Linked DNA regions of Homo sapiens. The protein of the gene in region 3 interacts with the protein of the main gene of each other region in a biochemical or structural test. Each region holds a gene or a part of one and is shown on either strand. Other genes may lie near its edges. The genes, in order: SNAP23, SYT1 and STX2.

Region 1 (10,237 bases), on a different chromosome or scaffold from region 3:
CCTGTAATCCCTGCACTTTGGGAGGCCGAGGTGGGCGGATCACCTGAGGTCAGGAGTTCGAACCAGCCTCGCCAACATGGCAAAAACCCTGTCTCTACTAAAAATACAAAAACTAGCCAGACATGGTGGCACACACCTGCAATCCCAGCTACTCGGGAGACAGAGGTTGCAGTGAGCTGAGATCGCACCATTGTACTCCAGCCTGGACGACAGAGCAAGACTCTGTCTCAAAAAAAAAAAAAAAATGCCAAGACAGGCTAAAGGCTAGGCCTCTTACGCCGGTTAACCAAGTGGTGAATGCAAAGGAAAAGTTCTTGAAGGAAGTTAAAAGTGCTACTCCAGTAAACACAAGGCCCTAACTCCCTTCAATGCTATAAAGGCTGAGAGGTGAGGAAGCTGCAGAAGAAAAGTTGGAAGTTACCCAAGGTTGGTTCATGAGGTTTAAGGGAAGAAGCTGTATCTGTTAACATAAAAGTGTAAGATAAAGCAGCAAGTGCTGATGGAGAAGCTGCAGCAAGTTATCCAGATAATGATGATGGTGGCTACAGTAAACAATAGATTTTTCAATGTAGATGAAACTGCCTTCTATTGGAAAATGACACCATTTAGGACTCCCATAGCTAGAGAGAAGTCAATGCCTAGCTTGTTTCAAAAGACAGGCTGACTCTCTTGTTAGAGGCTAATAGAGCTGGTGACTTCAAGCTGAAGGCATTGCTCATTTAACATTTTGAAAATATAGGGGCCTTAAGAATCATGCTAAGTCTACTCTACCTGTGCTCTATAAATGGAACAATGAAACCTGGATGATAACACATCTGTTTACAGCATGATTTACTGAATATTTTAAACCCACTGTTGAGAAGTACTGCTCAGAAAAAAAAGTATTCTTTTCAAAATCTTACTGCTTATTGATAGTGAGCATCAGAGTATATGGTCACCCAAGAGCTCTGATGAAGATGTACAAGATTAATGTTGTGTTGTTTTCATGCTTGCTAATATATCCATTCTACAGCCCTTGGATCAAAGAGTCATTTCAGCTTTCAAGTCTTATTGCTTAAGAAATAAATGTCATAAAGGTATAGCTGCCATAGTGATTCCTCTCATGGATATGGGCAAAGTAAACTGAAAACCCTCTGGAAAGGATACCGTTAAGGACATTCATGATTCATGAAAGGAGGTCAAGATACCAACATTAACACGGGTTTGGAAGAAGTTGATTCCAACCCTCATGGATGACTGGGCGTTTGAAGACTTCAGTGGAGGAGGCCGGGTGTGGTGGCTCACGCCTGTAACCCCAGCACTTTCGGAGGCAGAGGCGGGTAGATCACAAGGTCAGGAGTTCGAGACCAGCCTGACCAACGTGGTGAAACCCTGTCTCTACTAAAGATAAAAAAATTAGCTGGGCACGGTGGTGCCTGCCTGTAATCCCAGCTACTCAGGAGGCTGAGGCAGGAGAATCGCTTGAACCCGAGAGGTGGAGGTTGCAGTGAGCCCAGATCACGCCACTGCACTCCAGCCTGGATGACAGAGCAAGACTCCTTCTCAAAAAAACAAAACAAAACAAACAAAAAAGAGACTTCAGTAGAGGAATTACAGGCACATGCCACCACACCCAGCTAACTGTATGTTTAGTACAGATGTGGTTTCACCATGTTGGCCAGGCTGGTCTCAAACTCCTGACCTCAAGTGATCCATCTGCCTTGGCCTCCCAAAGTGCTAGGATTACAGGCGTGAGCCACTGCGCCTGGCCCATGGTAAAGTATTTTAAATTAAGGTATATACATTGCTTTTTAAAGACATAATGCTATTGCACATTTAATAGACTACAGAATAGTGTAAACAGAACTTTTATATGCACTGGGAAACCAAAATTCATGTGCCTCACTTCATTGCAATACTAGCTTTATGGTAGTGGTCTAGAACTGAACCCTCAGTATCTGAGGTATGCTTGTATTAATCTGCATTTACAGACAAATTAAGGCACAGAAATGATCTTACAGTCACTTCAGCTAGAGTGAAAATTCAGATAATGCCTCAGCCCATGCTTCTAACCAATCATACTGTGAGTGTAGCATGCTGGTATTCTCAGAACTATTTCCTTTATCCAGAACAGTGCTAAAATTTTTTTTTATGGTAAATGGTTTTAGGAAAGGCATTTAGGTAAAGCACAATCCTCCGTTTTACACCTTACTTTACATATTTACCATCCCTGCCAAACCACTCATTTTGACATGGAGCATTTCTATTACAGAGGGTGTAGTTGCATCTCACTTTATTTAAATATTTTCCTCTTTAGCCTTTGAAAGCTCCCACATTAACTGTATCTTCTCCAGTGAGTTGTAGTTCTCACACAGAACCATTACCCTTCCAGTCACTAGTGTATTTAAGCTCAAGTGAGTAAGACTAGTAATGATTAAAATGAACCTCACAATAAATTTTTAGCAAGGTAAGTTTAAGTCCCATCAATATTTTCAATAAATACTGGAAAGATGCTAAAGGCAGCTTCCTGCTGTAGTGTTTCTTGATGTATGGATCTTTGCTTTATTAATTTGTTAAATGAGAGCTGATGAAACTATTTTCCCCCAAATAACAGTCATAGAAACATGTTACCTATTTGAAAGAACAATACCATTAGTTAGTTAAAAAATTTAATTGTAAGGATCAAGCAGTGGTTATTGGTGAAACCAATACACACTGACAGCTTTGAAGTGTTCAGATGCTAATTTTAAAATAAATGTGACAAATACCAATCAGATGTTCATAACACTTTTCAGGATCCACATCAACTTGATTATGGACATAGTTCAATACACAAGGGTAAGAGAAAGAGTGTGTAATCACCAATAATTAAACCAGAGGCATAATTTTTTCAAATAATTTTTAGTTACAGAATAAATTCTAACTTTTTAAAGTCTAAAGCTACATAAAACTCAAAGCAATCTATTTTTCTACCTGAGGTCAAAATGACTTTCCTTTTTCCTAACTAAACATAATTCTTAGCATTGAGGTAAATCTGAATTCATGTGGTATGCTTTGTCAAACTTTTCCAAAAAATTTTAAGCCCTGCTTTAGAGAGAAATTCTCATGTTACACATATATATTTACATATTTTTTCTTCAAAGACTAATGACAATGTATGATGTTAATAGGCCTGTAATGGAACCATGATACTACTAATAATATGAAATAAAAAGCCACTCATTTATATAAAGTGTTCCTGAATGGTGCAATAAGAAATGGGATCACAGATTTATGTACATATATGAATCACTAAGAGTTCAGAAATTAAGCTCACTTTAAGAAAACTCAGCCAGGCACAGTGGCTCACGCCTGTAATCCCAGTACTTTGGGAGGCCAAGGCGGGTGGATCACGACGTCAGGAGTCCAAGACCAGCTTGACATGGTGAAACCCTGTCTCTACTAAAAATACAAAAATTAGCCGAGCGTGGTGACACACGCCTGTAATCCCAGCTACTCAGGAGGCAAGGCAGGAGAATTGCTTGAACCAGGGAGGCGGAGGTTGCAGTGAGCCCAGATCGCGCTATTGCACTCCAGCCTGGACAAGAGAGCGAGACTCTGACTCCAAAAAAAAAAAAAAGAAAGAAAACTCATTCTATTTTTCTCTTTGGAGCAGAGGTTGCAAAACTGTGATGCCTAACAAAAACGTTGTGTATAAAAGCTCCAAAACCAAGCATTAGCCTAAATTGGCTATAACTGCAACTTAAATCAAAAACTATATCCAACTAGATCTTCGTTGTGGCTATGCAACTTTTTGCTTTGTGGCCTGAAGGTTTTTACTGAGGTAACAACCTCTTATCTCTTGTCCTTCCCTCAACCACAAAAGCAAAAATAAACAACAACAAAAAACACCTCTACAGCTTCCTTCTTCATGGCTGTCTTTGGCAATGCTTCCAAATCTTGAAAGCAAAAGAACCTGCTGAAGTATATGAGGAGGATGAAAACACTAAACATGACATATGAAAACCAATCTAAGCGTATGAATTGAGAAAGAAAATACTAGAAGGAAGGCAGAGCAGCAGTCGGCCCTCAACAGAAAACAAAAAAGAAGGAGGGCTGTAACTGCTCTGGCCCTTCTTCCATATTATCTCCCAATTAGAAGAGCGTGGAACCGAAAACTTAAACTCTGAAAAGGTAATAACTTTCAAGGAGGAGCTACGGAAGTGAATAAATGATAAAGAAGAACAGCAGTAGCTTTAGCTGTCAATGAGTTTCTTTGCTCTGGCATTGGCAATATCAATACGATCTCTGTTGGTGTCAGCCTGAAAAACAAGAAAGATATCAGCTTTACAAGGTAAGTAACTCTAATAAAAATTAAACTTTTTACACTTGGAGTAACTGACACACCAAGAAAATCCAAGAAACCACGTGAAGTTACATTACAAAACTCATGTTGGGCAAGAAGTAACAGAATATGAAATTCATTTGGAAAACCCCTGGTATATAAACATGACAAAGGTGTAACATATAAGACCTTGCCAATATTTCATAAATTCTATAACGCATTTTTTCATAGTTTAACATGCCTGAAACTGGGATGCATCCTGTAATCAATGGCATTTTTTGATGCAATGAAATATGAAAGAGTGCTCTTCTCTGTTAAAGATCTGGACCTTGTGTGAGTCCTCTGAACTGAATCATAGAATCTCATCTGGATTCAGACACCCTAAGTCTAACCTGGAGAGACTGAAATAACCTTTCCAAAGATCTTTGAAACGAATCTATTACCATCCTCACCAACATCTGAATTAAAATGACAGGTAAATATAGCCTAAACCCAGACTGCAGCATTTAAAGCATCTTGTGAACCACTGTTTCAATTAAATCCATCAAAAGTGATTTAACAGAGAGCCAAGCTTAAAAACTCACCCTAAAGTTCACTGAGATTTTAATGAGGTATGACTTTCTTTTTTTCCTTTCTTTTTGAGAAAGGGTCTCACTCTGTTGCCCAGGCTGGAATGCAATGGTGCAATCACAGCTCACTGCAGCCTTCAACTCCTACACTCAAGCAATCCTTCTGCCTCAGCCTCCCGAGTAACTGGGACAATAGGCACATGCCACCATGCCTGGTCAATTTTTAAATTTTTTTAGTAGAGTCGAGGTCTTGCTCTGGTCTCAAACTCCTGAGCTCAAGCAATCCTCCTGCCTCCGCCTCTCAAAGTGTTGAGATTACAGGTGTGAGCTACCACGGTTGGCCAAGGTATGACTTTACATGTGACACATCAAAACACTGAAAACAATTTCGCTTTCACTATATTTATATCATGTAAAGTTAAGGGGGAAAAAAAAGAATCACAACTTTCTTTCACTCACATGACTCTATTTCGTGTGTCCACTCCATAAGAACTATTCTGCAGAACAGATTTTCACCTACGGACTCTTTCATGAGATGAGGATTCAGGAACTTAATTTATTTTTAGTTAACAAAATAGGCTGATGTGGGAGGAACGCTTTAGCCTAGGAGGCAGGCTGCAGTGAGCTGTGATTGTACCACCACACTACCCTAGGCGACAGAGCAAGACCCCATTCTCAATTAAAAAATTAGTTAACAAAATAAAACTCATTTGGGAGAGAAAAAAACACGCTCAAAAGCTAAAGTAGATACTAAGCTTCATGTGTGAAGGTTTAAGTAAAACTACTATATTCCAAAACTCTGGTTTCAAAATGCACCAACTACCATGACAGGGAGGACTTGGCTCTTGTTTTATGTGTTAGAACCACCACCTCATCAGAATTAAGACCTATGAGGACAGGAGCTTATTCTACCGTGTCCCCCACAGTATCTAGCACAGATGTCTATTACTGAAACACTGAACTGGGTGTCTCATTTTCTTGTGGCAATAAAAAGCTTTTACCTTGTCTGTGATTCGTTTTATTTGTGGATTTTGAGCATCAATCTCATTGCCTATGTTCAGGGCCATGTCTTTTAGATTTCCCAGGATACTGCCCACTTGAGTCAGGTTCTCTTCCATTTCATCTTCTCTGGCATCATTAGTTATGCTATCACAAGAAGACAGTTAATTCCATAGGTTTTGTTGAATTTAAATAAAAGTCTGGATTTACTTTTCACAAAAGTAAGTAACCAAAATGACTCTCAGCAAGTATAAGATCCAAAAGAATATAGGTTACCATTCCTGGGAAACATTCTATAATAAAAACTGGGAGACTCATCAAAGAGAGCACAGTATCTTAAAGCCATGTAAGAAAAGAAAGAAACTCTGAAACAGTGTTTCTCAAAGCTTAATTCCCAGCATCACCTGGGAAGCTGTTAGACATGAGAATGCTAATTCTCACACTCCATTCCAGACCTACTCAATCAGAAACTGTAAGTGCATCCCAGAAACCTACGGTTTAATAAGCCCCTCAAGTGGTTCTAATGCACAGTTAAGTCTATCTAAAGAAGCACTGCCCTAAGAGAGAGGTTGGAAAACTACGGCCCAAGGACCAAATCTGGCCACCATATGATTTTGTAAATCAAGTGTTATTCAAACACAGCTGTGCTCATTTGTTTACATATTGTTTATGCCTGCTTTAACCCTACAACAGAGTTGAGTAATTGCAAGGGACTGTATGGCCTGAAAAGTCTGAAATATTAACTCTCTGGCTCGTTACAGATCTTCTTACAGGAATCTAGCTGACCCTTGTTCTAGATGACACATTTTAAAACCTATTTTTTTCTATATATAAAAGTAAAATATGTCTAGTTCAATAATTTGGAAAGTACTGAAAAGTATAAAGAAAAGTTAATTCCATCACCCAAGGTCAACCACCACAGTCAACATTTTGTCTGGCCAGGTGTGGTAGCTTATGCCTGTAATCCCAGCACTTTGGGAGGCCGAGGCAGGTGGATCACCTGAGGTCAGGAGTCCAAGACCAGCCTGGTCAACATGGTGAAACCCTGTCTCTACTAAAAATACAAAAATTAGCTGGGCGTGGTGGCGCACACCTGTAGTCCCAGCTACTCGGAAGGCTGAGGCAGGAGAATAACTTGAACCTGGGAGGCAGAGGTTGCAGTGAGCTGAGATCACGCCACTGCACTCCAGCCTGGGCAACACAGCAAGACTCTGTCTCAAAACAAAACAACAAATAAAAAAAACCCACATTTTGTCAGTGGGCAGATTTTTAAATGCATTTTAAAAATGGAATAAATACAATTTTTATTTGTTTTATTAGGGGTCATGTACTGCTAAACTCATCTCCTAAGTGAACCATTCATTAAGAAAGGTACAGGAATATCAGGAGGAGTTGGCATACCGTTTAATGTATCCACCACTGGCTGCTCCCGTTGTTGGTTGCTGAAGCTGACCATTTGTCACCGGGCCTGGCTGTTTAGATACTACATTGCAAGGTGAGTTTTCTCCACCATCTCCCCATGTTGTCTTATAAGCCTTGCCAGACTCAAAGTTCTTTGTTCTATATAAGAGTCAGGAGTGTAGGGAGATACCAAAAAAAAGAAGACGGAGAGTTCTAATTATTAGTGCCTGTTACCTTGAGGATGACACTAATAACTCTAGTAGAAAAGCTGCATACAGCTAAGTCTAGATGATCTACACTATGCTCCATGGCAATATGGAATAGGAAATAGATGAATTATGTAAACCCATTGACACTAAAAAAAATTTTAAAAAGGTCCAAATACTACTTCTACCAAATCTTCACTAGGCTGTTAGCAAGTAGCAAAAGGCAACTATTTGATTTTTCAGGTTCCCTTAGCCTCTGGCACTATCGTTTTGCTTTTCTCTTCCTAGTGTATCCAGCACTATCTAGAAAAGAGGTTAATGCACATTACTTAAAAAAAGGTCCCTTAGAAAAGGTGTTCTGGGATACCTTAAGAGGTTCCTTGAAGGCATCTCAGAGGTTGACAAGGGATGACAGAATAAGAAGGCTGATGCTGGGTGCAGTGGCTCACGCCTGTACTCCCAGCACTTTGGGAGGCCAAGGCGGGTGGATCGCTTGAGCTCAGGAGTTTAAGATCAGCCAGGGCAACACAGCAAAAACCCATCTCTCAAACTCCTGACCTCAAGTGATCCATCCACCTCGGCCTCCCAAAGTGCTGGGACTACAGGCTCGTGAGCCACTGCTCCCTGCCTCAAAATGCCATCTCTATAAAAAAATACAAACATTAGCTGGGTGTGGTGGCACACGCCTGTGGTCCCAGCTACTCGAGAGGCTGAGGTGGGAGGACTGCTTGAGCCCAGAAGGTCGAGGCTGCAGTGAGCCATGATAGTGCCACTGCACTCCAGCCTGGGTGACAGAGTGAGACCTAATCTTAAATAAATAAATAAAATTTTAAAATAAGAAGACTGAATTTGAACCAGCGTAGTTCCAGCTGATCAGTTTTTATTAGAATTTTCCATGAAATTTTAAACAATGGTTTCTTACAAACAAACCAGCCATCAGGAAAGAAAGGCATGAATAATTTCCAAATTGGACAATCAGCGGACAAATAAGTACCTTGACCACACAAGCGGTCATTCATAAATCCTGTAGTGTAGGAGTTTTTCATTTAAGAGTTTCCTCTTTAAAAAAACGATCAAGGCCGGGCACAGTAGCTCACACCGGTAATCCCAGCACTTTGGGAGGCCAAGGTGGGTGGATCACCTGAGGTCAGGAGTTCAAGACCAGCCTGGGCAACATGGTGAAACCCCATCTCTACTAAAAATACAAAAATTAGCTGGGTGTGGCACCACGTGCCTATAATCCCAGCTACTGGGGAGGCTGAGGCAGGAGAATCGCTTGAACCCAGGAGGCGGAGGTTGCAAGGAGCCAAGATCACACCACTGCACTCCAGCCTGGGCAACAGAGCGAGACACTCCATCTCAAAAAAAAAAAAAAATCATAAGTCTAAGTGTCTTAAAAAGAAAGAAAAAGTGGCTATTACAGGGAAAAAAAAATGGCTGTTACGGAAAAGTGACACAAAACTTTTCTTGATTATTTGGCTAAAGTCAAGCTTTCATTCAATTTTAGTTTTCACTTTTCTATAAACAAAAACGAAATAGTATGTTGCTCAAATATTGATCTCTGATTTATTCTACATTTTACATTAATAAGGAAGTTTTAAAATTGCAAAAATTAAAAAGGTAGGGAAGAGATTTTATGAAAAAAGTGACTTCTTCCTTAATAGGCATGTGAGGATTCATTTTCGGCAAACCTAGAATTGAATCTTAGACTTTATCATTAACATTACAGAAAGGATACTACTAATTTTTTTTTGTGAGAGGCATTGCAAAGGCAAATTTATGAACACTGAAGAGCTAGTTCTCCAAGTGTGTTTCATGGTACCACTTTAAGTTATCATAATTATGTTTCTATGCTGTTTTTATTAATTAACCCATTTATTTATTAAGAAGCCATGTTAAATTTTTCTTGGAACAAGGTAGGATATATATTTTTAAAATAAATATTCACATGTATTCTTTGTTAATAATAAGAAAGGTCCCAGGCAAAATTCTAGAGCAGAGTAAGTGCTAGTAAATAAAACAAAAGCAATATATTAGTTTATCAGAAAGTTAATAACCACAAATATTAACAGAAGTAACAGAAGTGGGGCTTTTATTAGAATTTCGGATTGTGGAACAGGTGCAAGAGAGAAGGTTGAAATTCCAAAGTAACTAATGAGATATTATGTTTCTGACAGCACAAAAAGAGGAGTGGACTGGGACATGACCTTGGGTTCTGGTCTATTAAGGAATATATATGCATTCCAACCTCCTTCCCAACATTAAGAGGCAATATTTGAAAAAATTCTTTACACTTATGAGAATTCTTCTTTCCACAATTAGATATAAGGGCATAAAATGCAAATGAATTGTTTAAAAATGATCATGTGAATGATTTTTAATTGAAACATAGTCTATAAACAAAGAATCAGATTGGTTATCAAACTCTGCTGTCTTTAAAATGACTGGATCTTGGCCGGGTGCGGTGATTCACACCTGTAATACCAGCACTTTGGGAGGCCGAGGCAGGCAGATCACGAAGTCAGGAGTTCGAGACCAGCCTGGCCAACATGGTGAAACCCTGTCTCTACTAAAAATACAAAACTTAGCTGGGTGTGGTGGCGCTCGAATGCAGTCCCCGCAACTCAGGAGGCAGAGGCAGAAGAATCACTTGAACCTGGGAGGCAGAGGTTGCAGTGAGCCCAGATCGTGCCACTGCACTGCAGCCTTGGTGACAGAGTGAGACTCCGTCTCAAAAAAAAAAAAAAAAAAAAAAAAAA
Region 2 (10,312 bases), about 52 Mb from region 3:
GTTTTAAACCTCTCCAGTTCATTTTGCTTCTCTCATCTTTTTGGGTAAAGAACTGATGAATGTAAAATAAATACAGTTACTAGTAATGCAGCATGTGCTAATGATTTCCAGTTTGATGAGAAATGAACAATAAATAAATGAAACACTAATGCTCATCTTTGATAACTAACATCCAAAGTCAGTAATGCTGTGAGAGCTCTAAGCAGTTGCAGAAATTCTGTGCTTTATTTAGGAATTGACAGTTCTAATAATGTCTTCACTTTCTAAAGTTTCCAGAGGGTTCCTCATGAAGGATGTACAAATATACTGTCATATTAAAAATAATTTTTTGATCAGCTTCATTATAGCCCTGGCTAGTTATTACATAATACATTCTAGAAAACTACATTATTGGTTTACAGGTTCAGGTTTGTAGTTATACCATTTTTAGTTAATTACATCTGATATTTGTGGTCATTTCTATCACTTCTATGAAAATTTGAGCATCAGGATTTGGTTAGGAGCAAAACCTCTTATTTATATATTCTAGGAAAGATCAAGGACAACTTATATTGGTCTTAATATATAACATATTTTCCAAAAATTTAATCTGGCTTTCTATATGCATCCAGTATTTTTTTCATCATATTGACCATTCATATTTTCCAGTGGAAATCTAGTGGTGTCTCATTCTGATTAGTCATAATTTTGAAGCTTTCAAGTTAGCTTTAATTATTAATACTATAAGTATCATTTTATAAAGTAGTATTTTTAAGAAAATAAATAATAACACTGAGAATTTTTTTACTAAAATATAGTGAGAGTACATTTACTGTTCCCTTTTCAGCAAACATCAAATCTAAAAAGTTATTTCATTCTGAGAAACTGATGAATTTTTAAAATATTACACATTGGTTTTTCCCAAATGTTCTCAGTTAATTTGATTTATAAAGTGATTCCTAAGAAGCAGGAAGTTAAAGTCTGAAAAACTTCATAAAGTTTGGATCAAATATATGTTTACCAAAACTAAAAGACAACCCTAAAATATTCTAATTAAGACGCTTTCATGGTACAGAGAAATGTGATATTTATCTCTTAGGCAGAAGTCAGAACAAGGTTGTAAAAAGTAACCTCATTCTTTATTAACAAAATATCCAAAAACTCTAAATTATAAATCATCTAGTTTCTAAAGAGTTTAAGCCATCTCTCTAGCATTTTTTCTGCTCAAAAGAAAATTGGTTATAAAAAGTGAGGATGAGGAAGTAGAATCTTACTTATTCGCATTACTACATAAAGGTAAATACCAAATACCTACTTAGCAAACAAAGAGACAGACTGTTTCCTTTACTAATCATGTCTTTATAATCCGATGCCTATTTTAGCTGTTTTTTGACCATCTGTCTGTGTTTTGTTTACCTACAATCTAGCACTCTTATTGCCACTGTTGTATCATGATTCCACAAAAAAAAAAAAAGATATTGAAGCATTAAAATAGAAACAACATAATCATTCAGGTTATTGGGCCATGTTAAAAGTTGAGCCACCTAGCCAAAATGCACTTAAGTACACGGTGGGTCACAATTAAAATGGTTATGCATTTTTTTTAAGAGGGGGAATTGCTTTTTTACTCTACTAGCTAAAAAGGCATGAACTCAGATTTTTCAGGCTGAGATGTAAAAACCTATGGTGTTACTGCATTTACAAAATAGCATATACCTTGAATAACAGTAAGAGTCTGCTTTGTTACCTATATGGATCTAAATCAGTCTGTTGACACAAAATCTCTAATGGCAGAGTATCTATGATAGTCTACTCACACCTCTTTTTTTCTTCGCAAAAATATTAACCATACCATAATACCTTAATATTCATAATGAGGCTTAAGAATGCATCAGTAAGAAAACAGACTTAAAGAAATGTAATAGTTCTGTGGTGTTTGGAAAAAATAAAAAACACAGTTACTCACCATTAAAAAACCTCACCTCTAATCTCCCTTGCTTTCTATGAAGCTGAAATTACATTTCTTTTACTCCGTGTCCTATATTTAAACACAGAATCTCATAGATAATAATCATTCTACTGTAAGTTAAAATAAATGTAGTCTGCACACCAGTGAAGGTCAAATATAATAGAAACTAGAAGATCTTATTTTTTATCTCAAAATGCTACCCAATTTCTAAGAAATTTCTACTCAGCTAGCCTGAGGCTTTGATAAAGAATAAAAGTTTCCCACTTTGTAATTACAAACTTGTGATTGCTTAACAATGCATTTTCACTTACAAATCATGCTCTGGAAAGAAAAACAATGCACAAGAGCTTTTAGCAACTGGAAAGTTATTTGATTACAACTCTTTTGCAAAAATGAACTCCATATTTAACTGCAATCAGCAACCTTTTAAAAGCCTCTTTTGTGCTTAAAACCAGGCTTCCCAGAGCCTGCATCAGTCATAATTGGGTTTCTGAAGTCTACATAGCTCAGTTCATTTGCCTTCTGTGTTCAGATTCATAAGAGAATCAGAGTTTTATTAAAAATAAATAGGAAGAGGGAGAAATCCCAATATGCAGCATTGTGAACAAATCGATCTTTTCCAAAATGTCCACTGATATTTATGTATGCTGTATTCTGTCATTTATTTCAGCTGCTGGTAGGGATCATTCAGGCTGCCGAACTGCCCGCCTTGGACATGGGGGGCACATCTGATCCTTACGTGAAAGTGTTTCTGCTACCTGATAAGAAGAAGAAATTTGAGACAAAAGTCCACCGAAAAACCCTTAATCCTGTCTTCAATGAGCAATTTACTTTCAAGGTATTTGTTAACATTTATTTATAACCTTTCCTTTGTTGTTTTACTTAAAAGACTGATCTCATCCTGACACATACATAGACATGCACATGAATGCTTGTTCAGGCACTCACAATAATTCCAGTCAGAATATGCAAAATTCTTATCTTCACTACAGTCAACATTCGATATTGCCTTTCAGCGTGTTCAGAGTAGGATTCGGTTCAGTCATTTCAGAATGGAATGGACTAGAACATGACTAGGATGTCATAGTCACATCTAAAAAGTGAGATCCCTCCCTGAAATAAAGCCAAAGGAATGAAATCATTATTTTTCTGAATTTCAAAGTTTGTGAAAATAAGTACATCTGTTACAATCCCAGGATTAAGTAAGCTGTGTCCCAATGCTTAAATGGTACAAATAGACATGACTCTTGTAACAAAATTGTGTGTGTAGAGGGCAATTTGAGCACTTCAAAGTCATTCTTCTTAACTAATCAATAAAAGGAATATGAACATATTTTTTATTGCATTTCTAGCCTTCTTCCTTTACTCTAGGTTCTGCCCTGATGTTCTTCATCTTGTTGAGGCACCTCAGTTGACAAACAACAGAGAGATTCCAGCCATATAATATCTCATCAGGAAAACATGTCCTGCAGGTCTCCAGGATCTTCGTGGATCTTGGCTTGAAATCATTCATTAAAAACAATTCTTTTGGTGGATATCTTTAACGTGCGAAAAAAACTTTTTAATGCATTACTTAGAACAATATGTTTCTGAAAAATGAAATATCTGTGAATATGCCAGCAGGCTAATTCAAAATCACCACGTCCATCAGCCAGGCTTAGCATATGCCTTGTGTTGGCAAACATTCTGGGATGAAATAAATTGAAAATGAGGGCATGAGTCATTTTCTCAAACCTTGTTTTCAATTATGTAAAGGGGAAGTGTCTTTCTATTCACTCTAAAATTTCTGAGTTTTCAAGACAAAGGTCCCTCATGTATTGTCAGTAATCTTATTTAAAATCTGGTTTTTCTGTACCTAAGCAGTGAATTTAAAGTAGCAGTAAAGACATTCTGGAAATACTCAGTTCATGAAGAGTATCTGCTCATGAAGCTTAATCACTATAGTCAACATACTACGAAACGTAAAATGGAAATAAAATTTTAAAAATATTGTAATAGTAATCACAGTTGTTTTATTCATCTATTTATTAACCTTAACTTAGGTCAGCAGTTTCTGACCAAAACTTAGTAAGGAAATTCTTAAATTATATGAGCTAATGTATTGGGGCTTTGTTTTGTATTGCATTACCTACATTATTATTTCTTTAAAAAATGCTAATAATTTTATTAGTAATTTCTATAAAACCAAGTATAATTATTGAAATTTTTGAATTCTCTATACATTTTTATCAAGTTTCATTTTATTTCAGAAAGGTTGATCAAACTATACATAAATCCAAAGTATAATATATTCTGCTATATTAAAAAATACTTCAATTTTTCTAGAGAACTGGTTAGACATTGTAGATTACTCATCTTGAAATGCCAAGAGGCAATATGATACAGGAATGGAAGTATAAAAGACTTTAAAGAAGCCTGGCTTTACAATGGATTTAAATCACTTAACAGGAACTCAACATGCCCCAAATTAATTCATCTTCTTTTCCCCCAAAACAGTTATCTGAAGGAGCTACTAATCATTCAAACAATAAATATTTTTAAGTGCTTCTTCTGTGCTAGGTGTTTTACATATATTCATTCATCCCTAAAATAGCCCCATGAAGCAGCCATTATTACAGTATTATCACAATTTAATAGATGAATAAACTTATGTTTAATCACGTGCCCCAGGCCCTTTAGTTGGAAAGTCCAAATCTGGTACAAGGTCTGTCTGACCCCAAGTCCAGGTTTTTGACTGTTGCTCTTTGAGTACAATCACTAGAAAGTCTAGAGAGATTTTAGATATACAATAACATTTTCAAGGGTTTATCCTTACTCTAAAAAATTTTGTTTCTTTCTTTGAGAGTCAGCTCTTTGGAAGGGTTTATTTTCCATTCCTTCTAAAATGGAAAAAGGATGATGCTTACTTTTTAATCATATCATTTTAATAAAATAATCAGGTTCCAAACAGATGGTAAATAAATGACAGAAAAGAAAAACTCTTTGGAAAACTAAAATTTCTTGTATGTAGATGGCCCAATATTCTTCCTTTTCTTCCCTCCTTAATATACAGAGTTAATTGAGAAATGTTTGCTGAAGCATAAGACAACCATTTACACTGATAAAATAATAGGAAGTGTATGAAAATTGATCAAACCTTTAAGACAAGTCTAAACAATTTCTTAATTAGGTATTTCTACCCAGTTACTGAAGTGTAGCTTACTTGGATTGCACTGCTTTCACTGAATATTAAAAATGTCACTAATAAACATCCCAACCCATAGCATCTGTCCCAGATATATTTGAACAGCTGGAGAATTCATCAGTTCTTGGCCTTTTGCCACCACTCATCCTAAGGCATGTCATACCCAAGAATGAACTTCAAAACCCATATTATAATGCACCTCTTATATTCAAAACATCAATTTCCTAGTCAGTTCTTGTCAATCAGCAAATTATTTTAGGGAGTAGGTGAGGCACTTGTGAATATCATTTCAATCCTTTCAGACTCCTAGCATAGCCTTTAATAAATCATTGCTCCATTGAACTGTGGCATTTAAATGCCTTGAAAGAGTTAATGGAGCATTTGAAATAAGTTATTTGCCCCTCAGTAAGTTACACCCTGACAATACAACTTAAAACAACAATAACAACAAAATATTCTACAAGAAAAACTTACTTATAGTCAAATGCAATTGGCTTGTTTATTGTTTTATTAATCTTAAGGCTTTATAGTATAACTAACAGCAGGATCCATTATTAATAATGCTAACAGCTTCTAGAACTTTGAGATAAGGCAATAAATCACTAAAATTTCCCATTTTCTCTCAAGTAATTTTAGCCTCAAGCAGTTTGTCAAAAGTCTGAATTTAAAAAATAACCAAAAACAAAATTATCTCCCTGTTCTGTTTATGCAACGTAAATATTAAATTAAGCACCATGAACAAGTAACATGTTTTAAGCATTTTTGTGACTGGATATTTTATCCTCATGTCTTTTAATTTAGGTACCATACTCGGAATTGGGTGGCAAAACCCTAGTGATGGCTGTATATGATTTTGATCGTTTCTCTAAGCATGACATCATTGGAGAATTTAAAGTCCCTATGAACACAGTGGATTTTGGCCATGTAACTGAGGAATGGCGTGACCTGCAAAGTGCTGAGAAGGAAGAGGTAAGGGAATTACTAGCATTTCTAACATCACAAGCTGTACTCGCCAGTTGCTGCTCATATAATAACTTATTGAGAAATACTCTTTACAAAGGGGGATGTGGGCCTCTAGTTGTTGACAGCTGATAAAATAGGGTCAAGGGCACTGCACCACCTCGTTAAAAAGTGTACAGGTCTTCTGGGTGTTATCTGAAAGAAGAGAGACATTTGTGTACTGGATCTAGAAACAGCAACCCTGGACACAAACAAACACACATGCCCACAGGAACTCTTTCTAAAAGCTTACAAAAGGCCACACACACTCATAAACTACTGCTTTAAAATGACAACGAAAAATTATTTTATTTCTCATTTTTCCACAATCATTTTGTGTTTTCTGCATAGGTTATGTAGCTATTACACAGAAATAAAATGGTACTTTTTCCTTGATTGTTTCTGCATATCACAGACAGTTCATTGTTTCTCCTAAAGATACGAGAGCATGATTGGTCAAACATCAAATATAATTCACAAAGCCTGATATTAAATCCATTTTTTAAATGACTCACATTTTTATGCTACTCCTCACATTGTTTATTCCCAGTTTTAATAGTTTAGCCCAGTATTTTTCCATGACTTGAAAAGGGAAGTTCAATATGTTTAGTGCATTTAAGCTTCATAATAATCAATTGTATCTGATTATGCGATGCCTGCCTGGCACCAGCATTTTTCTCTGCAAACATTTCAGTAGACCAATACTAGAAAAGCAAACAACCCTTAGCTTCTCCAAATTCCTAAAACAACTCCTTTCGCAGTCACTCTTTAGTTCCTGACGTAAGGCTGTAATTACGCAAGAGATTGCTGACAGCTCAGTCATTTAGGATCTCCAGGTCCCTAGGATTCCCTGGCCTCTTGGGGTCACCAGGGAGATCAGAGAGAACGTCAGGCCTTCAGAGAAACTCAATCAAGTCCATCACCTGGGAATCCTCTCAGCCTAAGGTTTTCTGTGACCAATCTGAGGCTATGAACTTTATACCCCCTATATGATGAAATGAGGTTTTAGAACAGGCCTATTAATTCCCATGCTGAAATTGAACTTTTCACTCTAACATTGCTGTTTGCTATTTGATTTTACAAAATGAGTCAAAAATACTTAAGTTAAACTCTGCTCTTTTTTTTGGAAAAAAGTATGTATACTTATACTTTCCAAAAAAGAGAGCAGAGCTTAAGTATTTTTGTATATAATATTCATGTATACTTATTATATATATATATATATATATATATATATATATATTTACTGTCTCAATATCTAAGAATGTTGACTAACCTTTCTTAGACATTGACACAGATTTAGCCCTACTGTGGATATTCAAGAATACCCAGGAAAAATACCGAGTTTTAAAATTATATGATTTTATGGATAGTTCTTTCCTATAAGTGAACTAATAGTAATGTTACAGACATCTTCATGAAAAAAAAAATTCGATCATTCAGTTACAATGTTTATAATTATTTAACAAAGTAGTGGGATGTTTCATTGACTTTTTTGTTGAAGTGTTTGACTTTGTGTAAATTTTTTGGGTGATAAAGTAGGACCATAAGAAATGTTTATTAACTGATTGGTTTTATTAATTGACTGGTGTTTGGTTGGCTTGTTGGTTGAATATGAGAACATGAACCACTGGTACTTCACAATGCCCACTTGTGCAGGGTGCATGGTTCACACTTGTTACTTTCACCTGGATAATTATCAGGTGGTAATGACATCCAAGATCACACCCAGTGGGTTTCTGAAAAATTGTGCAATGTTTTTTTCTGAGCTAAGGGAATGTGGACCATTGAGCAAGTTTCCTCTTTCAGAAATCTTTGAGTACGAGCAGAGTTTGAAACTTAACACCAGGCTGACGGGTTTCACTCTAGAATCTAGGGGTTTAGGTAAACTGCCCATTCAGAATTTTAACCTAGAAAGTGGCCTAACATGATTTACCCCTTATCTTACTTACCGATGAAATAGAATAGAACATGAAGTACCCAGCATAGAGTCTGGCATATGGTAAATGTTCACTAAGTGAGAGGTCTCTCATACCTTTTTCTTGGTTAATTTTGTGTGTGTGTTCTCTTTCCCCATTTTGTGTGTTCATCTCCTCATTTGTTGTGTCTCTTCCCTCTATTTTTATCTACTTCGCTATCCTTTTTCTCACCATTGCACTTACTGAGTATCTGTAGGAGTTATTAATGGGAAATATTAATTTTATCATTACACTCGTAAAACTCTAGAGACTTTCCTCTTTGATTTCTACTCAGGAATAGAAATTTTTGGTTTTCAGTTAGACTATTTCTCTTTATCAAGGTATAGGTTATAAAAAACTGTATAAGACAGATGTCTAGCTTACAAAGTATCTCTGGATGACTAGACCCAGTTAGAAACTTTTTCATTATAAAGGAAGTAAGATTCCACTTGCATTTTATATCTGAAGAATTACATATTCTCAATGATATCTGCTCTAACTTTTCATGCCACTGTCCATTAATTGTAGAAAATTATAATTGTGTGAATAAATTGAAGTCTTAGATTGACTTTAGTTTTATGATTTTAAAGAAATTGTTTTTCCACTTTACATGAGCAATTTTGTTCATGATTTTAGTTTTGCTTTCATCTAGCAGTGTTAAGCATTATTTTTAATGTCATAATGAGATGAAAGATATCAAAGAAAGTGAGAAAAAGGAGTTCAAGGAACAGCTTTGGAATCTAGAACAAGTACTGCTAATCATAGTAAGCTGTTCTGCCGGAGACTTGGATTTAAAGAGGTTAAATCAAACCCACTGACAGCCAACTCTGTGATGTTAATTAAATGGAGTAAGGTTTTATTGCCAGAAAGTTGACAACTATAAGTCATAAGATGATGAAGTAATTGTGTAACTTAAAGGATTATGTACTATTTTAGCGACCAAATAATGTGCAAGCAATTTAGAAAGAAATGGGAAGGAACATGGATAGTGTAAGAGCCTCATTTGGAAGTGACTAGGCCCATGTTTAAAAGGAAGTGATGTGGAAGAGATAAGGTGTACCAGGAAGAGCCACAACAAAAGCACATTGTTCCCACTATTCGATTCTATCCCCAGGTGGAAACATCACTGGTGAGGTTTCCATTTGGCTTGATCGTGTTCCGCAAATTTACACAATCAAAGCCACCTCACTGGTTTCCGTTCACTTGCCGGTTTGTTTTTTCAGTGATGCACGGTCGACTACTTTCTTCCTCCACTTCCCCACCTTCTAATAGATGAAGGTGGAATTTGACCTTGGAGACAGGTCAACATTTCTCTTGTTTTTGTTTCTTTAAAACAGAAATATGTATCCTCTGAGTTCCTAGAGATGGTTATATATAAAACTGTTGTTTCTTAATTTTTTTATTTCTCAGTATATGGCTTCAAAATCATCCTTGGTAATCAGTATATAATTCTTCAGTGTGCAAAAGGCTACCAATATGTATAGCCCCAAGCTGAATCTTTGAGATTTTCTTCTCTTTAATCTTTCAAAAAATAAGTATTTATTGTATACACAAGTCAAACCTGAAACCAATCTTTATCTTTTTAGAATAATCTATTTAATATTTTGACTTAATTATTTCAAACATTACAAGCAACAGCTATGACTCCATTTTTCCCTTCTTATAAATTTCACTTATGTGCAGTTTTAAAATTGTCTCAGTTCTGCACCCCAGGATCAGGTATATCATCAAAGTATTTAAACTCTTTTTATTTTAACATTTTGTTCCTATTTATAAAGTTTATTTTTATCTCCATGCCTTCTACTGATATTTGTTATCTCTAAAAACAGCATAAGGAATAGATAGCACCAGAAAAAAAAACTAAGCCTTTTTTTTTAACATTCCGCCCTGATATGCTGCAAGCTCTCATGACTTGAGCAGTACTGTTTTATTGTTTTGTTTCCATTAGAGAATAAGTCTATCACCTCGGCTTTGTGTAAAATTTGGTAAAGAGTGATTTTTAAATGAGATTCTGTAATCTAGTGCAAATGGAAAAAAATTGATTGCAGAATTAAAACAAGTTGGAACATAATTTAATTAGTATCCAAGCAGAAGGGAAGAGAAACTACTTTAATGCTTTAATGGAAAATCAATTTTGCAAGAAAATTTCACATTTTTAAGCCTAATTAGAAAAAGATTTACTTCACAGAAAAGCATGTGAAGAATACATATTCAATCAAATGG
Region 3 (10,312 bases):
AGGTTGCAGTGAGCCAAGATTGTACCACTGCACTCCAACCTGGGCAACAGAGCAAGACCCTGTCTCAAAAAAAAAAAAAAAAATAGGCATGGTGCCTGAGTTTTTCACACACATTCTCATTATAAAGTTCTTCAAAATACAGTGTTTCTTAACAAGGTTGCTGAAGCAGGCAGGAACAATCCTGTGTGTGGATGGATTCCTATCCTTACACAATCCAGGCAGTCTCAGAAAATAAGCCCATCAGATGTGAACCTACTTAGGGGATGACTCCAGCCAAAACAGATCCGAAACCAGGCTCAGGACAAGTGAGGAAACCATTTACTTAGGATGGTTTGATATAAATGCTTCCGCTTCACCTGGTGGTCAGCTGAATCCTAACCAGCAACAGAGTCTTATCTCCATGGTATTTGAAAAATAACGAGAAGACCTTATTCAAAGACAAAGAGCGAGTGTGAACATACCCATGCACATCACAGAGCATGTGATCTGTGATCCATCCCGTACTTTACATGGAGAGTTCAATATATACATACATACATATATATGTGTGTATTTTTTTTTTTTTTTTTTGGAGACAGGGTCTCACTCTGTCACCCAGGCTGGAGTGTAGTGGCATGATCATAGCTCACCACAGCCTTGAACTCATGGGCATAAACAATCCTCCCACCTCAGCCTCCCAGAGGAGTTTTCTATTTATTAAGAATTGCATTAACTCTTCGGTTCACTCAGAAGGGCCTTTCCACACCTGCTTTCACTCCCTATCTGTGTTACTGGGCAGATGGGAAACCCCGTGTAACAGGCACAAGCTTGCATCTGTGTCATAGATTGTATCCCCACTTGGGGTTGATTCTTTCAGACATTTCTCCTAGTTATTACTGTAATATATGCTTCTTATAGAAAATCTGAAAATAAATACTTTTAGAGAAGATTAAAATTCCCATAGTCTCACTGCCATTACACTGTTTGATATACGCCTTTCCTTCTGTGGATACTGTTTTATGGAGCCAAGCTCGTGCCATGTGTTTGTGTTTATGTACTCATACATATGTACGGGCATACACAGAAGATCTTTGTATCTCCCTTTTCTCTTAATTCTAGCACAAACATCTGCATATTTCAGTAAGAATTCTCCATGAACAAAGTTTAGGTTGCCTATGGTTGCCTAAAAGGCTGACCTATGAACACTCCATAATTTAATCAACTGAACCAGTCCCTTCCTGTTAACAGTTCAACTGTTAAAGCTGCTTCCAGCATTTCAGCATCACATATAACACTGCAATTAACCTGAATTTGGTGGATCCAAAATAACAGCTTTCCTAGATACATCCACTAGACAGAGTGGGATGCAGTAAGATTTTACACATGACTGATATCTCTCTTGGAGAATGCAAGAGTCTGTAACTACCTGAGTCTCCACAAACATAGCCATGTCCATGAACATCTCATGCAACTCTCGGATGCTGGTCTCCAGCTTCATGATGTCCTTGTGACGTGACTCGATTTCATTGAGAGCTTGTCTAGTAATTTGTGAATCTGATATAATCTTGGAAAAACAAAAATAAAAGATAATATTAATAAACTTATGATGGGTTTGGAAGTTAAAGGGTTTTTAAAAAGCTCTGTCTACAGAAGAGGACATGGAGCCACAGGGCCGCACCCCCACTCACGTCGGAAGTGAAGATGGATGGCTTCCCGCTCTCCAGCATCTCTTCTAGCTCGTCGTCTGTGGTGGTTCTCCCAGCTGAAAGACCCGCAACCACAGCCCCACTCAGAATGCAGCACAATTTAAAAACAAAGCCATTTGCAACCATAAGTTAGCAACTACAATCATAGTTGTTAGCATTTTTCAGTAATTTTTTTAACCTTTTCTTAAGCAGATATTGACAATGAGAAGTGAACCTAAGATTGAGGAGCAAGAAGAAATAAAAATACTCCGAGAAACTTTGTAAATGTTATAAACAATAAAATTTCATTTTAATATTAGTGAGAAACAACTGCAGAAAGGAAATCGGTAAACAATGTCTCGGCACACTGGTTTCCCTAAGAGTTTAACTCCGCCTCATGTAAAAGGGGGTTGAGCTGAATGTAGCATGTATTAAATGAGGATCAATAAAGTCCACGTAATGAGAGTCAGATGCCTGAACACTTTCCATGTTTGGAAGTTAATGCTTTCCTTTTGAGTTAAATGTGTAATGACTTCGAAGAAACATGTACACAGGTTTTGGAAACCTAATTGTTAATTACTATTTTTCATAGTTTGTGCCACAGAAGACAAAAGTAAATGAATAAATGTCATAATTCAAATGTCATCTAATAAGCAGCATTATTCATAATTGCCAAAAAGTGGAAACAACGCAAACGTCCGTCCCCCGATGCCTGAAGGAGCTAACTGCGGTCTAGCTGCACACTGACATACGACTCAGCCACAAAAACAAAGGACGCTTTTGGTTTTTGTCGCTTTGTTTTTTGAGACAGGGTCTCACTCTGTCGCCCAGCCTGGAGTGCAGGGGCACCGTCGCAGCTCACTGCAACCTCTTCCTCCCGGGTTCAAGCAATTCTCATGCCTCTGACCCCTGAGTGGTGGGGACTACACGCGTGCGTCACCACGCCCGGCTAATTTTTGTATTTTTAGTAGAGGTGGGGTTTCACCATTTTGGCCAGGCTGGTCTCGAACTCCTGACCTCAAGTGATCTGCCCACCTCAGCCTCCCAAAGTGCTCGGATTGCAGGTGTGAGCCACCGTACCCAGCCCTTTTTATTTTTTTAACAAAGATACGGTCTCACTCTGTCACCCAGACTGGAGTGTAGTGGTGCAATCTCAGCTCACTGCCGCTTTGACCTCCTAGGCTCAAGCAATCCTCCTGCTCCAGCCTCCCAAGTGACTGTGATTATAGGCACACACCCATGCCTGGTTTATTTTTATTTTTTTTTACAGAGATGGGGTTTTGCTATGTTGTCAAGCTGGTCTTGAACTCCTGGCCTCAAGCGATCCTTCCACCTTGGCTTCCCAACCAACACGCTGGGATTAGTATACATGTGAGCCACCACACCCTGCCCACCCCATGGTGAAACCTTGGAAAAACTGTGTTACAGGAAAGAAGTCAGTCACAGAACACATAGTGTATAATTCCATTTATATGAAACATCCAAAATGGGAAAATGTACAGGAGTAAAAAGTAGAATGCAGTTGTCTTGGGCTAGGAGAGGAAATGGGGAATGACTGGTGGTGGGTGTGAAGTTTCTTTTTGGGTTGATAAAAGTGTTTTAAATTGATTGTGTGTGGAAATACACCAAAAACCACTGAATTAATTGTATGCTCCAAATATCATTCACATATTAAGAGATTTACTTCTCAATAAAGTTGTTGAGATGTCATTTAATGAAAAAAGTTTTAAAGTTAGTAAATTGCAAAATTTGTTTACTTACACTATTTTTTGGGAGGTAATTCTCAATCATTTAAAAATCTATTTGAGAGCACACATGGTGGTTTACATGTATAATCCCAGTGCTTTGGGAGACCAAGGTGGAAGGATTGCTTGAGGCTAGGAGTTTGAGACTAGCCTGGGCAACACAGCAAGACCCTATCTCTACAAAAAATAAAATAAAACTTAAAAATCTATTCAAAATAGCTCAATAAGGAGATTCTCTGAGTTTTGCTTTGCTTTTTTAAAAACATGAAACTTGTTCTAAATAATGTAAAATATAATCATCAAAACTAGAAATTTCAGCTTGGGCAACATAGTGAAAACCTCGTCTCTACAAAAAATAAAATTAGCCAGGTATGGTGGTGTGCTTCTGTGGTCCCAGCTACTCGAGAGGCTGAGGTGGGAGGATCCCTTGGATCCAGGAGTTCAAGGCCACAATAAGTGGTTATCACAACACTGCACTCCAGCCTGGGTGACAGCGTGAGGCTCTCTCTCAAAAAAAAAAAAAAAAAAAAAAACAAACTAAAAGTTACAGTTCATGTCTCACGTTCACAAAGGTCTTCCCACCGGCTAACTGCTAAGTCTAAGAAACAGCCTGGGGTTACAGAATGTGAAATGCAGTATACATTCGTAATTCCTTATCCAGAATGCTGAAATCCACAACATTATGAAAACTGGGTTTTCCTTAAGCTCGATGTCAAAATTCAATGAGCGGCAAAATCTGACCTAAACTGAGTCATGGCTATTTATAATCTTAACTCCTCCCCCTTACTGTGAATACTCACATTTCACTGGAGAGCTGTGTGAATGTGCCTGATTACAGGGTGCAGTCCTAGACCCCACCTGGGGATTACATAATACACCTCTTATACATTGTACTATCTTCCTAAAATCTGAAAAATTCTGAACTCTGAAACACATACAGCCCCAACCATTCCAGAGAAAGCACTGTGGACCTATGTAACATGCCCTGGTCCAAGAAGAAACTCACTTGCCATTTGAAGAAACAAAGCATACAGCACAGGAAAAGATATCCTGTGATACAAGGTAAGAAACCTGCCTGATGACAGGGCTGACGGAAGGAAGAAAGAAAGGGGACAAAATGGTTTTAGGTGCAAGGATTTGGAGAAGACCACTGTATGAAGACAGCCCGCTGTGTGGCCAGAGTGACGCCATCCTGAAGCAAAACCACCGTGATGACCGATGCTCGACTCGTGCATGCCAAGCTGTTCTGCAATGAGGTCTGAAGACGATGCCTCCGGCACAGGCAACCTCTCATCAAGATGCTCATCCAGCCTGACCAGTGGTCCCAAGTGTTGTCAAGCAAGTCAGAAGACAGGGCCGGCTGCACACGTTCTACCCTGAAAGCCTGCTGTATAAAGAACACTTTCTGAGGGCAGGCGGCTGTGGGGTCCACCGTCTCTGTCTCTCGGGGGCTTCTGTTCGTACGTCCCTAGCCAATGTTTCCTTCGAGAAACTGGATTTGTTAGCCTCTTTCTTTGGCGTCTCAGCTCGCTCAGCCTTTGGGGGTGAGTTTGCATAGACCTGCTCACTTCGGAATAGCCACATGGAGGGTTTAGAATTTAACAGACTTAAAGGAATTACTAAAAAAAACTCCCAACACGTATATGATACTTCATTGCTTATAAGACACTTTCACAAACAGTACTGCATTCGATAGAGTATGATTGCAAGAGAAGAAACTGGAAATGAATTCTGTGGGCTGAGATAGAATAATGTGGGAAAGAGAGAAGAGACTTAGGCGATCTGATCACGCCACCGGATTCACATGGGGAGTGAAGACAGGATGGACCTGCAGGAGAGATGGTGCGGGGCCTTCAAGCCCAGGCTGGGGAACTCTGTGCTAGAAAAGCGCTCACCACAGAGTCCCAGAGCATAAATCCTCACAGTGCAACCGGCTGCCTGTAATGATGACTTTCACTTTAAAAAGTACTAACAGATCCCTGAAGTCAAAGTGGTTTGTAAAAACTTTTTCATAGAAAAGCAGTCTAGTCGACATCATGATTGAGCATTTCTGCCAGGATGGAGCAACAGGGACCGTATTTTCCCTGCCACTTGAAATAACCACAAACCCACCAAAATCTACAAAACGATTTCCAAGACACTGAGCATCAGGCCACACACTGATTCCCAACAGATGGAAACAAGCCAGGTGAGCCTGCTGCTGCCCTCAGACGGAACTCTCGTGTCAGCCACAGAGCAGAAAGGGCCCAGGTGGAGCCCAGGGGAAGTCCTAAGGCAAAGGCACAGAGCTCAGGGGAGACCAAGGCAACTGGATTTGCAAGATGGAGTATGAGAGATGAGAGAGATGCAGAGAGCGAGCTGCACAGACCCCGCATGCTCACTGGAGTGCTGACCAGCATGCCAGAGGGAACACGCTGCCAGGCAGACGAGGGTGCCATGAGGTTCACGGCCATCAGAGCAGGTGCTCAGAAGGGTCTTACCTCAGGAGTGAGGAATGACAGGCCCTCAAATAAAGCTGCTCTGCTCCCTCTAAATGCAAGATCCCAAAGGCTAAACCATGCTCATGTGATTTAACTACATTCTAAAACAAAGCCCAAGGAGATTTACAAAAATACTCAAAATACAGAAATACTCAGCACCCAACAAAGTAACGTTCACAATGTCTGGCACACACTCGAAACTTACCAGGCTCGCAAAGAAGCAGGAAAACACAAGCCACAGAAAGGAAGGAAATCAACCAACCAGAGCAGACAGGACACTGGAGTTGGCAGACAAAGACGGTTCAAGTTACTACAAGTGCGTCCCAGTTGTACAGTGGGGAGCAACACAGCAGACATGTAAAACACCCAGCAGAACTAGCAACAGAAACCAGTGTCTCCGATGAAACATACACCAGAGGAGGTTAAAGGCAGATCAGACAAGCAAGAGAAACTGACCAAAACCAAACACACTGGAAAAGAGTATCTAAAACATGAGGAGCCTCGCTGAGCTGTGGGACAAGGTCAAGCGGCCTGGCGGGCATATGACAACATTCTCTGAGGGGGATGTGCGGCGTTGGGAGCCGGGATGGGCCTGAGGCTTCATCTGACCTGCGAGCTGACACGCTGGCCTGCCAGGGCTCCGTGGGGGCCGGCAGAAGGTCCAAGGCCCCAGGTCAGGGACAAAGGGATTTCCTACTCACAGCACAGCAGGCAACCTGAGGCTCATGAGCAGCTGTCCACGGCCCCCAGTCTCATGGGGAGAGGCAGAGCAGCTGCAGTGGGACGTCCTCACAGTGGGTTTGTGTCACAGCTGAAGGACCCGAGCTTGGGAACCCCAATCTTTCACAATGGGGAGTCTACAAACCTGACCAACCTTTATCCCTGAAACAGACCCGTCTGTCCCCGAAGAAGGCGCCATCTCCACTGCCACAGCCAACTGTCCCCATAGACACCCCTGAAAAGAGTCTGGGGCAATAGGGCCGCTGCCTCTGCTCACAGACAAGGAGAGATGTGAGGAGCCATGAAGATGCCCCCGAACCAGGGCAGGGCGGGACTGAGGACACAGAAACACTCAAAGAGGAAATGACTGAGCACTCTCCCAATCTCCCTGAAACTCTAAAAGCAACAGCAATGAGCAAGGTAAACCCCACCGCTTAGGACTTCCTGAAGACAGGAAGAACAGGTTTGCCTGACTCACGGCATAGGAAGCTACGAGTGGTCTTTGGGTTTTACACTATTGGTGAAAATAGACATGGATTTCCTTTTCTGAAGTTAAAGTCATTTGAAGTGAGACCTTAAGGGAGAAAAACATGATTTTAACAAAGACGGAGTCTCCATTACTCACTTATCTCCAGCTGGCGCTGGATGCGGCCTTTGCTCCGCTCCCGAAACAGAGTCTGTGCCTCATTGTACTCCGCCATGGCTTCCACAAACTTCCGAGACAGCACCGAATGCTAACAACACAGGAAAACTACATTCGTATCTGAGGGCCATGCCTTCTACTGAAAGTGACATGCAAGACATGCATTTTGGAAACTCAAACTACATGTTATTCTGCTCCTGCAAATGGAAAATGACAATGGCAAAGTCCCCATGGCAGCATCTGTGCTAAGAACTTTGCATGCATGATCTTACCTAATTTTTACAAGACCCCTACTATGCCGGTCACAACCCTACTTAAAGAAAACCATGACTTTGAGGTCATTAGCCCAAGGTCACAGGCTTTTCTGATAAACACAGATCAGCACTGGGACCCAGGCAGGTGGACCCCAGAGCCCGCGTGCTTCATCGCCTTGTGCCCATGAGGGGACCCAGGCAAGCGGACCCCAGAGCCCGCGTGCTTCATCGCCTTGTGCCCATGAGGGGACCCAGGCAGGCGGACCCCAGAGCCTGCGTGCTTCATCGCCTTGTGCCCATGAGGGGACCCAGGCAGGCGGACCCCAGAGCCCGCGTGCTTCATCGCCTCGTGCCCTCGAGGCCTCAGGGCTCTGTCTTCCTCTGGGCAGTACCACAAACCACTAAAACGTGGCGGCCTTACCACAAACACTAAAATCATTTGGATAATTCCCTACTCTTTGGAATAGAACTCTGTTGATGGACCGAATAGATTTTTCTTCACAATAAAGAGATTTCTATAAATACTGTGAAAGGAAAATAAAATCGCAGGACCTCACACTCACTATCCCAAAGGGACAGTTAAGCTTGGGAACTGAGTCATGCAAAACACTGCCCTCCCTCCTCTTCTCAAACAGATGGCTGCAGTGACAGAAGGCCGCACATCGCCCCAGCAGCCTCCTGCACAAAGTGCTCACAAGGAAATTCCTCGTAGGTCCCAGAATCTTTCAGAATCCATATCCCCCCCACCAAAAACTAACTCTAAAACAGAGTTCTGCAGAATCTCACCCTGACAATGTACATTAGCCGCTTACCTTCACAGGTACAGGACAAAGACAAGACTAGAAGTCACCCTCGGCCCACCCTGAGAAATGCATGTATAGCTCCTCCCTCACCTCAGGCTCACACTGGCCCACGTAAGAGGCGGATCTGGGCACGGGAGGAGTGCAGAATCGACCCCCACTCCTCTCTTCCCACATGTGAAATGTGAACGCAGTGAGCCCTGAGCAAAGCCTCACAGCAGTGTGGCCACCCCGCTGCCTACCCCCACTTTTTCTCTTTTTTTTCCCCTTTCCTCCTTCCTCTCCTGCCCGCTCTTTCCCCTTTAAATACTGAAGTCCTCAAAACCCTCTTCAGGAAAGGCACAAACCACAGATCCTACTCTAATTTGTATTTCTTTTCTCCAAGTGTGTCCTCAACTTTGGCAAAATAAACCTCTGTCTCAGATACTTTTGTTTTACAATACTATATTATTTTTGTGCAGAAATACTATGAGGATAAGCATGACAGTAAAGATGAAATTATTCAGAGTCTGCAAGAAGAAAGTAAAAACACTTATTCTGCGACATTACTTTAATCTAAACGAGGCTGATAGCAAACCTGGGTTCTTCGTATCCGAAGATCCACTGAAGTCCGGTTCCCACTCTCATCCTGATCAAAACTTTGTTCAATAGCTAGGAACAAATAGGAAATAATTACCTTCCAAATTTAAAAATGAAAATGTTCCAAGCCTGACTTCAAATTCCTTTTATTTCTTATCTTTGAAGTATCTTTATAAAACTAAAGCTAATGAACAAGTGACCTTCTAAAACAATCTACTAAAAAGACAATCCCTCAATAGGAAATTATTTTCTGAGACAAGGTCTGGCTCTATCACCCGGGCTGCAGTGCAGGGGCACAATCTCGTCTCACTGCAACCTCTGCCTCCCAGGCTCAAGCAGTCCTCCCACCGCAGCCTCCCGAGTAGCTGGAATTACAGGCGTGTGCCACCACATCCAGCTAATTTTTGTATGTTTTGTACAGACGGGATTTTGCCATGTTGCCCAGGCTGGTCTCGAACTCATGAGCTCAACTGATCCGCCTGCCTTGGCATCCCAAAGTGCTGGCATTACAGGTGCGAGCCACTGCGCCCAACCCCATCAAGAGGAAACATGTATATGTAGATACACACAGATATATATACATACACACATATATACACAGATACACACAGATATATATACACACATATATACAAATACATGGAAAACACACATACAAAAAAATGGAAACATAACCAACAAACTTTAAAACTGGGTACCACTAAAGGGAAAGGAGAAACAAGGGGACGATGAAGAAAGAAGCTAGACTCCGAATATGTTTTATATATTTGACGTCAGAATGACATAAATACTTCACAAAACTTAATGCAAAATTAAATTTAAAAAAATTAATCCCTAAACTTCAAAGAAAAAATAAAGCAAACCTAACAGTAAGTCAAGTTAATGATATAAACATACAGAGGAGCCGGGTGCAGTGGCTCACGCCTGTAATCCTAGCACTTTGGGAGGCTAAGGCAGGCGGATCACTTGAGGCCAGGGGTTCGAGACCAGCGTGGCCAACATGGTGAAACCCTGTCTCTACTACAAATACAAAAATTAGCTGGGTGTGGTGGCGGGTGCCTGTAATCCCAGCTACTCGGGAGGCTGAGGCAGGAGAATTGCTTGAACTCAGGAGGCGGAGGTTGCAGTGAGCCGAGATAGTGCCATTGCACTCCAGCCTAGGCGACAAGAGCGAAACTCCATCTCAAAAAAATAAACACACAGAGGAAAAACTATTCAAAGCAACTTTAAAACCCAGTAATTTGTAGCTGGACACAGTGGCGTGTACCTGTAGTCACAAGTGCTCGGGGGATCACTTCAGCCTAGGAGTTCGAGGCTGTAGTGCGCTATGATCACACTGGTGAACAGTCACTGCACTCCAGCCTGGCCAGCACAGCAAGACCCCAGGTCAAACAACAACAACAACAACAAAAAGTAATTTGATTATC

What was found.
Region 1: the proteins of STX2 (region 3) and SNAP23 form a complex in vitro, tested with the Homo sapiens proteins (2 studies listed by BioGRID).
Region 2: the proteins of STX2 (region 3) and SYT1 form a complex in vitro, tested with the Homo sapiens proteins (one study listed by BioGRID).

The regions. Positions count from the first base shown.
Region 1 is NC_000015.10:42,525,456-42,535,692, reverse strand, and holds the end of SNAP23 (synaptosomal-associated protein 23), read right to left. Parts: intron 7,432-10,237; coding exon 7,273-7,431; exon of another isoform or gene 7,222-7,272; coding exon of another isoform or gene 7,192-7,221; intron 6,019-7,191; coding exon 5,874-6,018; intron 4,281-5,873; coding exon 4,215-4,280; 3' UTR 2,635-4,214; downstream 1-2,634. UniProt on the Homo sapiens protein: Essential component of the high affinity receptor for the general membrane fusion machinery and an important regulator of transport vesicle docking and fusion.
Region 2 is NC_000012.12:79,293,451-79,303,762, forward strand, and holds part of SYT1 (synaptotagmin-1), read left to right. Parts: intron 1-2,618; coding exon 2,619-2,786; intron 2,787-5,933; coding exon 5,934-6,101; intron 6,102-10,312. UniProt on the Homo sapiens protein: Calcium sensor that participates in triggering neurotransmitter release at the synapse. May have a regulatory role in the membrane interactions during trafficking of synaptic vesicles at the active zone of the synapse.
Region 3 is NC_000012.12:130,799,748-130,810,059, forward strand, and holds part of STX2 (syntaxin-2), read right to left. Parts: intron 8,958-10,312; coding exon 8,884-8,957; intron 7,344-8,883; coding exon 7,235-7,343; intron 4,797-7,234; coding exon of another isoform or gene 4,753-4,796; exon of another isoform or gene 4,346-4,752; coding exon of another isoform or gene 4,210-4,345; exon of another isoform or gene 3,906-4,209; intron 1,742-3,905; coding exon 1,668-1,741; intron 1,544-1,667; coding exon 1,406-1,543; intron 1-1,405.